Linked DNA regions of Homo sapiens. The protein of the gene in region 2 purifies or fractionates together with the protein of the main gene of each other region. This does not show direct contact. Each region holds a gene or a part of one and is shown on either strand. Other genes may lie near its edges. The genes, in order: RHBDD1, OR6M1 and HERC3.

Evidence for each region.
Region 1: the proteins of OR6M1 (region 2) and RHBDD1 purify together in Homo sapiens (affinity purification with mass spectrometry; one large-scale study listed by BioGRID and IntAct). This does not show direct contact.
Region 3: the proteins of OR6M1 (region 2) and HERC3 purify together in Homo sapiens (affinity purification with mass spectrometry; one large-scale study listed by BioGRID and IntAct). This does not show direct contact.

What each region holds. Positions count from the first base shown.
Region 1 is NC_000002.12:226,859,904-226,863,562, reverse strand, and holds part of RHBDD1 (rhomboid-related protein 4), read right to left. Parts: intron 1-3,659. UniProt on the Homo sapiens protein: Intramembrane-cleaving serine protease that cleaves single transmembrane or multi-pass membrane proteins in the hydrophobic plane of the membrane, luminal loops and juxtamembrane regions.
Region 2 is NC_000011.10:123,804,861-123,807,921, forward strand, and holds OR6M1 (olfactory receptor 6M1), read right to left. Parts: upstream 1,490-3,061; coding exon 548-1,489; downstream 1-547.
Region 3 is NC_000004.12:88,665,459-88,669,117, forward strand, and holds part of HERC3 (probable E3 ubiquitin-protein ligase HERC3), read left to right. Parts: intron 1-1,918; coding exon 1,919-2,030; intron 2,031-2,433; coding exon 2,434-2,623; intron 2,624-3,659. UniProt on the Homo sapiens protein: E3 ubiquitin-protein ligase which accepts ubiquitin from an E2 ubiquitin-conjugating enzyme in the form of a thioester and then directly transfers the ubiquitin to targeted substrates.

The DNA.
Region 1 (3,659 bases), on a different chromosome or scaffold from region 2:
GGTATACAAGTGAGTCTCGCTGAGCCCAGCCTAATTTGCTGACCCACAAAACAGTGAGCTAAATAAATGGTACTTGGTTTACTTCACTGAGCTTTGGAGTGGTTTGTTATGCAACAACTACTAACTAATACAGAAGGTATTGCCTTTCGCGAGTGCTGTGGTTTAGGTGTTTGTCCCTCCAAAACCTCATGTTGAATGAATGAATGAATGTATTTATTTATTTAGAGCCAGAATCTCACTCTGTAGCCCAGGCTGGAGTGCAATGGCATGATCTTGGCTCACTGCCACCTCCACCTCCTGGGTGCAAATGATTCTTATGCCTCAGCCTCCTGAGTAGCTGGGATTACAGGCATGTGTCACCATGCCTGGCTATTTTTAGTAGAGACTAGGTGTCACCGTGTTGGTCAGGCTGGTCTCAAACTCCTGACCTCAGGTGATCCGTCTGCCTCAGCCTCCCAAAGTGCTGGGATTACAGGCATGAGCCACTAGGCCCGGCCTCATGTTGAAATCCGATCCCCAGTATTGGAAGTAGAGCCTAATGGGAGGTGTTTGGGTCATGGGGGAATATCCCTCATGAAAAGATGAATGCCCTCCCTGGGGTCAGGGGATGAGTGAGTTCTCACTCTTATTAGTTCCTGCCAGTGCTGGTTGTTAAAAGAGACTGGCACCTCCCCACTCCCTTGCTTCCTCTCTCATCACATGATCTCTGCACATGCTAGCTCCCCTTCACCTTTCACCGCAAATGGAAATGGCCTGAGGCCCCCACCAGATGCTCAATCTTGAACTTTACAGCCAGTAGAACTGTGAGCTAAATAGACCTCTTTTCTTTATAAATTACTCAGACTCAGGTATTTATAGCAACCCTAAACGGACTAAGCCAGGGAGGGACTGTTTCATGCTCATGAGAAGAAGCTAGTAAGGGAAGAGATGCAGGCAGAGACACAGACTAAAGATGCAAGAGATAAATAAAAAGGATCAAGTGCTTGGAGGGAAGAGTCTTTTCCTCTTAACAGAAAGAAAAGAAAAATCAGGTGTAGCTATTAGGGGCAAAATGTTGAAAAAGTTCTCATCTAATGGTTTCTGCTTTCTCTGTGGAGATTAATTGGCCCCCAACCAAACAGGTAACTCACTCTAATACCCTAAGGATTCTAACTTGGACTGCACACTGGACAATGCATGAGTTTTAGAGTTAAAAAAAAAAAAAAAAAAGGCAGGATTCTCCTATCTTCTAGCTCTGTGACCTGGGGCAAATCATTTAAACTTTCTGAACTTCAATTTCCTCCCTTTAAGAAACATAAAACCTCCTTCCCAGGATTACTGTGACATGCTTGGAACAAAAGAGATGCAGAATAAACAGTAGCTACTACTTTCATTTCTATAAAGTAAACTTACTTATGTGAGAATTAATTCCTTTGCAAATGGTAACATCCTAAAAAGACTCAAATGTACTCCTATGCCCCCATATGGATTCTTATTATCAACATCACACCAAAACAATGTTCAGAAAAAAATTATGCATGTGTATATATATATGTGTATGCATACACACACAAAATTAGCCATATACATACACGTGCATGCACACACACATTATTGGCAAAACCCCATGTATTAGCACAACCCGTTTCTATATTGTTATTATTGTAGCTCTGTAGCATTCTTATGAACTAGAGAATTTAATGAAATTTAAACTGAAATGCTCCCACATAACTTTGGATAAATGGCCTATATTTTTCACATTAGAACTCAAGTCAACTTTCAACTCTTTACCTACCGTAACTTTTTTGTAATTCTCCTAAATTTATCAATATGTGTGCACACGTGTGCCCACACACACACACAGAAATATTTATGTTACATATATCAAACATTATTACCTTTAACAGGAACAATGGAAAAACTGGCCTTGATCATTGATCAGTAAATAATCAGCTTACAAGAAATCACAAAATAAACCCTTCAATATCATTGCCAACAGTGTCTTATGATGCTGGGCTTTATGTAGCAGAAAATCAAAACTAACTACATCTTTGCTCAAGAAAAACTTGCCCCTCAATTACAATCATTAGTAATGAAGAATATAGATAAAAGGACAGAATTCCCAGTCTTACTTCACACTGTGTCCCAGGCTCTGATTGCACTTTCCTGAGTTACTTCTGGCTGGATGAAAAGGTGTCTTTCTGTCTGCATCCCTTCGCACCTCCCAGCTCTCCACTGTTGACTGCTCCTGCTTCTGTGGGACACCTTGCTCTCCTGAGGCTTCACTCCTCCTTCCAACCCGTTTCTCTGCTGTTCACTTCTCCTCTATCCCTACTCTCTCCTGCACACACTCAAGGGCTTCCACTTTAATGATTTTTGTAATTCTTTTTATCAGGATGATGCCCAAATTTCTATTTTTCAGCTTTGATTTCTCAGGTTTCAGGGACGTAATCTTAGAAGAAGATATAGTTTGCCTGATGTCTTGGTTTCTGAAAACTGAATTATCCTTTCTCACAGAATGATGATTCAGCCATTCCTTCTTTCACTCATGTATTTAATAAACATGTATCAAGTGCCATATGCATGCCAGTCCCTGTGCCAGGCACTGGAGGTACAGCAAATAACAAAACACTTATATTCCCAGCCTCTAAATGGCCTACTTCTATTTGTTGAAGGAAATAAAAATATTGTCCACAGGAAATCAAAAGAGAAGTAAAATTGTGTGGCTTGGCTTCTCAGTAAATGTATACTTAATGCGAAAGGAGATATAACCATAGCCAATGTGAGAAGTGCCCGTCTTTTGGGCTCCACCTTTGTAAACAAAGGCCATTAGAGTCCCAGTGTAGGTAGAACATACGTTTTGAGTCTTAAGTAGTAGCAAAGACCAATCAGTCCTAGTTCATAACAACTCTAGGGCAGTTTCCTTCCTAATCAGTTACCAAGTCAGCCATCCAAGGTGAGGGATGCAACCTGTCACAAGACAACTTAGAAAATCCAACTGATCCATGTAAAGATCAAATCTGTAACCTGACGCTGTGGGCCAGGGAGGCACGGCTCTAGGAACACCAAGGAAGACAGATCACAATAAGTGAGCACTGACTATAAAATGAATATTGTTAATGTCATGCCCATCAAATACATAGAAATTTTTAGAGTGCTGTGCTATCTGAAAGACCACAGAGGCAACATCAATTATAGCAACTTATCTGTGAACTGAAAACCTGTAAAATCTGTTGGGTTTTGGAAATGGTTTATGTATTATTCTAACTTGTATCCAGACCACAAGCCAGTTACCAGAGTTCAAGAAAGGCCAGTCCCTGTGCTCCCTTACCTTACAAACACACCCTCCCCACCAGACTCAACATGCCCCAAGCTGAACACTGGACTGTCCCTTCCAAATCAGCTCCTCCTCTCATGCACCCCACCTCAAGACATGGGATTTCCATCTATCCAGTTGTTCAAGCCAAAGACATAGAAAGATCCTTGACATGTCTTTTGACCTTAACCTTATCACCCTGCTACCCCCAAATCCTATCCATCAAGTTTTATTAATTCTTCCAAACAGTTTTTTTTTATCAATCTACTTCTTTCTAGCTCTAGGGCTACTACTCTAGTCTGGGTCACCATCACAGCTTGCCTGATTACCATAAAATCCAACCAACTGAATTCTCTGCTTCTCC
Region 2 (3,061 bases):
ACAAAACAACAGAAAAGCGAGGTCTCACTCTGCCACCCAGGATGGAGTGTAGTGGTGCAATCACAGCTCATTGCAGCCTCAACTTCCAGGGCTCAATGAATCCTCCAATCTTGGCCTTCCAAAATGTTGGGATTACAGGTGTGAGCCACTGCACCCAGCCTCCCTTCGTGGTATATGCAAGATACTTCATGGATTGAATTTTCTCCCAGACATGATCAGAGTTTTCCTTCAGTTTGGCATGATCATTGCTCATCCTGGGGCACCATCTCAGTTTCTGGCACACCAAACACCACCATAGTCGTGCAGAAAGAATGTGTTGAAGATAAGAAATGTGTGCCATTGGGGGAGGGCTGGGGGTTGGGGAGAGCATTAGGAAAAAGAACTAATGCATGCTGGGCTTAGTACATGGGTGATGGATTGATAGGTGCAGCAAACCACCATGGCACACGTTTAACTATGTAACAAACCTGCACATCCTGCACATGTACCCTGGAACTTAAAAAAAATAATAAAAAAAGAAATGTATTTAATGTAGTGTATACCAGTGTCAAGTTTTCCTTTGTATCAAGGTCATGATTCTGTTCACTGTCTCTCTCAACACTTCCTGTACCTTCTCATTCCTCAAGCTGTAGATAAAAGGGTTCAGGAGAGGGGTCACCACTGTGATGAGGACAGCGGCCACCTTGTCATAATCCAGTGAGGAGTTCTGATTGGGTCTCACATACACAAAGATGTTGCTCCCGTGGGCAATGGAGACAACAGTGATGTGAGAAGCACAGGTAGAAAAAGCTTTCTGACGGCCCTGGGTGGAGGGGATACGCAGGATGGTAGAAATTATGTACACGTAGGACCCAGTAGTGAATGCCAGGGAGCTCAGGATGACAAGGGCAGAGAGGAGAAAGTTTATCTTCTCAATGAGGTGAGTATTTATACAGGCCACCTGAAGAAGAGGGGCAATGTCACAGAAGAAATGATTAATTTCTTTCCTACAGTAAGGTAGCCTTGTCACTACAATGGTTGGAAACAACACAGACAGGAAGGCTCCCACCCAGCATCCCAGAACCAGCAGAAGGCAGGCCCTGCTGTTCATGATGACCGTGTAGTGCAGTGGGTCGCAGATAGCCATGTAGCGGTCAAAGGACATCACCGCCAAGAGGATAAACTCCACCGTCCCCAGAAAGAAGTAGAAATATGTTTGGATCATGCAACCAGCAAAAGATATGGTTTTCTCTTCTCCTAGGAGGCAGGCCAACAACTTTGGGGTAATGACAGTGGTGTATAAGATATCCAGAAAGGACAAATTACTGAGGAAGAAGTACATTGGAGTTTGCAGGCGATGATCAATCCATATCAGGGAGATGATGGTGATGTTTCCTGTTGCTGTTAATGTGTAAGTTACCACAAGAACCACGAAGAGAGATATTCGAATCTCCAGGAGAGCTGGGAAGGCAATTAGGGTGATTTCAGTCACAGTGCTCCAGTTTCCCATGACAACTACTATATGGTGGGCAGGGTTTCCCTGAAGAAACAAGAAAAGGAAAATCAGCTTAGGTAATTTTGTAAATATCTGCTGAGAATGTATTGCGGAGAGTGGCTTATATTGGGAGATGTAGACCTGGTATGTAGTCCTCTATCTGCAAGTTAATTATTGTGCCACACTGGGAAAGTCAAGATACTATTTAGGTACATGGTTTTTTTTTGTTTGTTTGTTTGTTTTTCCTGTAAAATGACGGAATAAGGCTGGATAAAAAAAACTCAACTTCCTTCTAGTTATAAAATTCTATTCCTTTTCATTGATGAAATTTCTAATCTTTTCTATTCTTTTGGCTTCATTTTCTCAGCTAAAAATGTGCTAATGTACTGATGTATACTTAATCAGAATGCCCTTCTATTATTCTGGTTTACAGTTCCTGAGTGGCAAATCCTTTAGAAACGTAAAGTCTTTTCTATAACAAACTTTCTTTCACTTTGGTGGTTGTCATTTAATAAAGGTTGATTTAGTTTTTTCTACATTTGTAGATATCCAGAGTCTCCGAATTCTTAACATCTTTCCCTAGCATGTATAGATCTGTGAAAACTGTCCAGAGATTATTAAAAGGAACAACAGCTGACGGTTCCTATTAATCATTTTAGATGACACCTCAAAAAGAAATAATGAGTGTCTCGCCCTTAGATTATGCTTTTGTGTCTAAAACCTACCTTCTACAAGTTCTGTGCAGTATCTAATATGTATCATATATCTGGCTGATCATTTGAGAGCACCGTATATAGTGTGATAACATCAGAGAGGCACAAATTATATACAGGAAGGCAACATAGAGGTAATTCACCTCACTTCATTTACTTTGTCAGCCGACATTGTGAAACTGTACTTCAAGATCATCTAGTTTGTTCTTTGTCCCACAATGTGAGAAATGATTATTTTGCAGAGACCTCCCCATTTTAGGTAAAAACCAGCCCATGCTTTAACTCTGACCTTGGTGCTTTATTTATCTAGATATCACTTAGCACCTCCTTAATAAATCCTTAATAGATAAGTTAGCATCTCCTCCACTCTTTGCTACTGATCGTGGCCACCTCTTTTTCTTTTTCCAAACTCCCCCTGCACTTTCCTCCAAGATAAAAAATTTACCCTCTTATTTTATTTTTCTTTTTATTATACAAGAAAGACATTTTTAGTGCAAAGAATTAAAAAATGCAAGTGCAGAAAAGAAAATTATAATCTGTAATCGAACTTCTTAGAGATACAGTGACCTTTTGGTGTATATAGTTTTAGGCTATTTTAAAGTTCAAAGTACATACTTGTGTATCTAAAATAAATCATACTAGGAGACTATTTTGTAATTAGCTTTTTTCCTTTTCCTTTCTTTCTCTTTTCTTTCTTTCTTCCTTTTTCTTAAAACAATTTAGCATCTTTCCATGTCAACTCCTAGAAGTCTTCACAATCATTTTTGAGAATTGTATAGTGTTTGATTCTATCAGTGGGACTGTGATATATTTAGCCAGTTGCTTAATGCTGAAAATTTAGATGGTTTACATTTCTTGCTTGTATAAATAATGA
Region 3 (3,659 bases), on a different chromosome or scaffold from region 2:
TCCAGAAGAGAGAAATAATTTGTCTTTGCTCTGCCTTTTTGTTCTGGGCTTTCAGCTGACTGGGCGGTGCCTACCCACACTGAATGAGGATGGATTTTCTTTACTTAGTCACTAATTCAAATGCCAATCTCTTACAGAAAACTGACCCAGACATACCCAGAAATAATACTTTACCAGCTATCTGGGTATTCCTTAATCTAGTCATGTTGACTCCTAAATTCAACCATCACCACCCCCTCCCCACAAATGAGTCCCTAACTGGGTTGCAGGAGGTCACTTCAGAAACTCTCTTTGGTTACATTTAGAGATTATAAAGTCATTTACTTTTATAATTAAGGCAGCTGGGATGAGCTCACACAATTCATTTCATATTTAGTAATTAGTTTTTTCCTCTAGGGAAAGATATTCTGGATTATGCTGATGTTGGCCTTCCAGAACAGGGGTTCTCAACCAGGGTGATTTTGCTCCCCAAAGGACATTTGGCAATTTCTGGTAACATTTTTGGTTGGTACAATGGGGAGGGACTTGCTATTGGCATCCAGTGGGTAGAACCCAGCGATGCTGCTAAACATCCTTCATTCCCACCTGCCCAGCAAAGAATCCTCTGGTCCCAAAAGTCAATAGTACCAAGGTTGAGAAACCCCGTTCTAGATGGATAGCTTTCATGACATTTGGGAAGGGCTCTTGGCCAGACTTGTTAGGTTGTTCATCCTTAGTATCACAGATTTCGTATAGAGTTGTGGGGAAAGCCTTTTATTTTTTTTCAAACTGACATCTGTGTATTTCAGAAAGTCTACTCCTGTAGCGTACATAGGATGCATCTCAGGAAACCAATCAAAATGAAGACCAGATTTACAAAGCAATAAATACGTATAGATAAAACATTTTGTTTTTGTTTTCTCAACAGCATAGCAAAAAGCATATGGAAAATTACATATGGGAAACCAGAATTCATTTCTATATTTTGGGCAGATTTATTTTAAAAACAATAACAACAACAACGAAAGACCCAAAAAACAAAGTACAAGCAATTTATCTTCATTTGAGCATAGGGTTCCGATACATATAATTATGATTTTTAAAAAATGTTAGAAACTCTTATGTTTTCAAAAATTATAACATTGCTGTCAGAGTGTATTAAAATCATCTGAATGTGTCCATTACTCAAAAACAGAAGCCTGCTTTGCAAATAGATAGCTCTTTTGTAAATTAACAAATGTGGTATGTTCAAGAGCAGGATATATGAGATATTCTCTAAGTCTCAAAAATGCTAAGATTTTATTTAAGGTTAAAAAAATGATTTAGTTGCTAGAAAGTTAAAAATAGTGGCAATGAAATTAGTCCTTGGGTGAATGTAATTGTATCCTTTGTGTTAACGATGAGAGACATTAACTTTGCATTTACTATAGATCATTTTTATTTTAAATACTTTGGTAAGAAAGGCTTTCAACAAGGAAGTTCTACTGTCATTTGTTGATGAGTGGACCAGTTTGCACAGGGGACGTTATTTGTACCAAGCCACAGCATCTACATCTAGTTCAATGAGCCACAAAAACAGAAAAAAACCAAAAAACACAAGATGAAATCAGGGAAATAATTATTTGTTTATAAACTTCAAGATAGCCTTAACTTGATATGACAGTCCTTGTACTTTGACTTGAAGGAAAACAGATTTAAAAATTTGAAAATTCTTGTAAAAGGAATTCCAGTGTGGTTTATTCTTTGTGAAAGAATAATATTCTGTATTTTGGGTTTATTATTTTGAGATTTATGCAAAGTGTAGTATTTTTGTGGATCTTATCTGCCAGATCAAATTTAAATCTGATTACTAAGAACACAGTATTTTACTTGTTTATAATTCCTATCAGAGTGTTTGCTTTTTCTTTTATTATATACCTTTTTGATTTTGTTTGTTTAGAATTGATGAACATTTTAAAACGAGTCCCAAAATCCCTGGGATTGACCTGAACTCAACTAGGGTGTTATTTGAGAAGTTAATGAACTCTCAGCACTCCATGATTCTAGAACAGGTATGTTTCTATATTTGTAAAGTGCATTCTTAAAAATGCATTTTTGTATCGATGAATTCAACTTCAAGAGAAAAAGAGTAAGATGAAAAAGTGAAAGTCTCCAAATCTTAATTTTGTAAAGTATTTACTCTGGGAATTAGACCTACCTTTTGCTTTCTTTTGGCTTAAACCTTTCCAAGGCAATGCCCCTCTAGAATATACAGTTTGCACTGGCAGGGATCTTTGGCTTTTCTTTTCATGGATGTGTACTGAGGGCCTAGACCAGTGTCAGGCTCATAGTAGGTTCTCAGTGCATAGTGAATGAATGAGAGTTGAGAGTCTATCAAATAGCTTATGAACTTAGAGAAAGTTAACTAGATCTCAAGTATGTTTGAATTTCTCATTACTCTTTTCCCTCATACAGATTTTGAACAGTTTTGAAAGTTGTCTGATTCCCCAGTTGTCAAGCTCACCACCAGATGTTGAAGCCATGAGAATCTATTTAATACTACCTGAGTTTCCCCTACTCCAGGATTCCAAGTATTATATAACATTGACTATTCCCTTGGCTATGGCCATTCTTCGGCTGGATACAAACCCCAGCAAAGTACTAGGTGAATTTGCTAACCTCGATATCAGTGGTTTTATGGTCATTTGTTTTGTTGGTGTGACTCCTGGCTCTCAGTGGATTGAGATCCAAGAATCTATTTGTTGCCATTTAATATCCTTAACACTTAAAACCTTTTTTTCTTTGCTGTTAATTTTTAGCTAACCCTATTTTCAAGTTGAAAATAAAACCATTATTTAGATTATTTGAAATGACTCATGCCAGAATAATCTTGATTTTATAGTATTCACAAACCTAATTTATTTAACTTGAAACTATTTTTTTCTACCACATTTGCTCAGTACCTCAGTATTACTGTACGTTGGTCTTTCTCCTATGTCTAATTTAGGGGGTGGGAGTGAAGTGAACAGTTTCGGTGATACAGAGGTCTCCAAAACAGGAGAGGAAGAAAATGACCTAGTGTGGACTTACCAAATGTTTGTTTTGTTTTTCTTTTTTAGGACCGTTGAGTCCACACTGATTTTTGCAGGCTCCGGACACTTTGCTGAGATAAAAACCTTCCATTCCTCAGTGATTTGGAGAGTGTCTTTCATGGGAGTAGCACCTGAAATGTTTTTATTACTCAAGTGCAGGAAGTCTATCACCTGGCTTTTTACTTTTTTCCCCCCTGGTAAATTTTGTTAGGTGTCATTGCAGCTCAGTAACTTCTGTGTTCCAGATGGACTGGGATGTTACTTGAGTGTGGTCTCGCCGTGAATAAAGAGATTGTGTTCCTGAAGGTGGAATACTGGCTTTTCTATATTGCCTCCACCTTTGTAGAAGAGATAAAAACAGAAATAATAATGAAAGCACTAGTAAATGTTAGTACTTAATTTTTTTTAAGATCAAAAGCCTTTTGGGGGCACATTTTCTCAGGTGTTCTAGTTGATGTGAAACAGAGAGGTGGCAATATCAGAAGAAATCTTACCTGACTTTCAAGTTTTAGAGTTTTTTCATTTTTATTTTTCCAGGCTGGAAAATACAAAGAGAACATAATTGTTCAATTTTACACTTTATTTTTAACTTCTAATTATTGATATTTA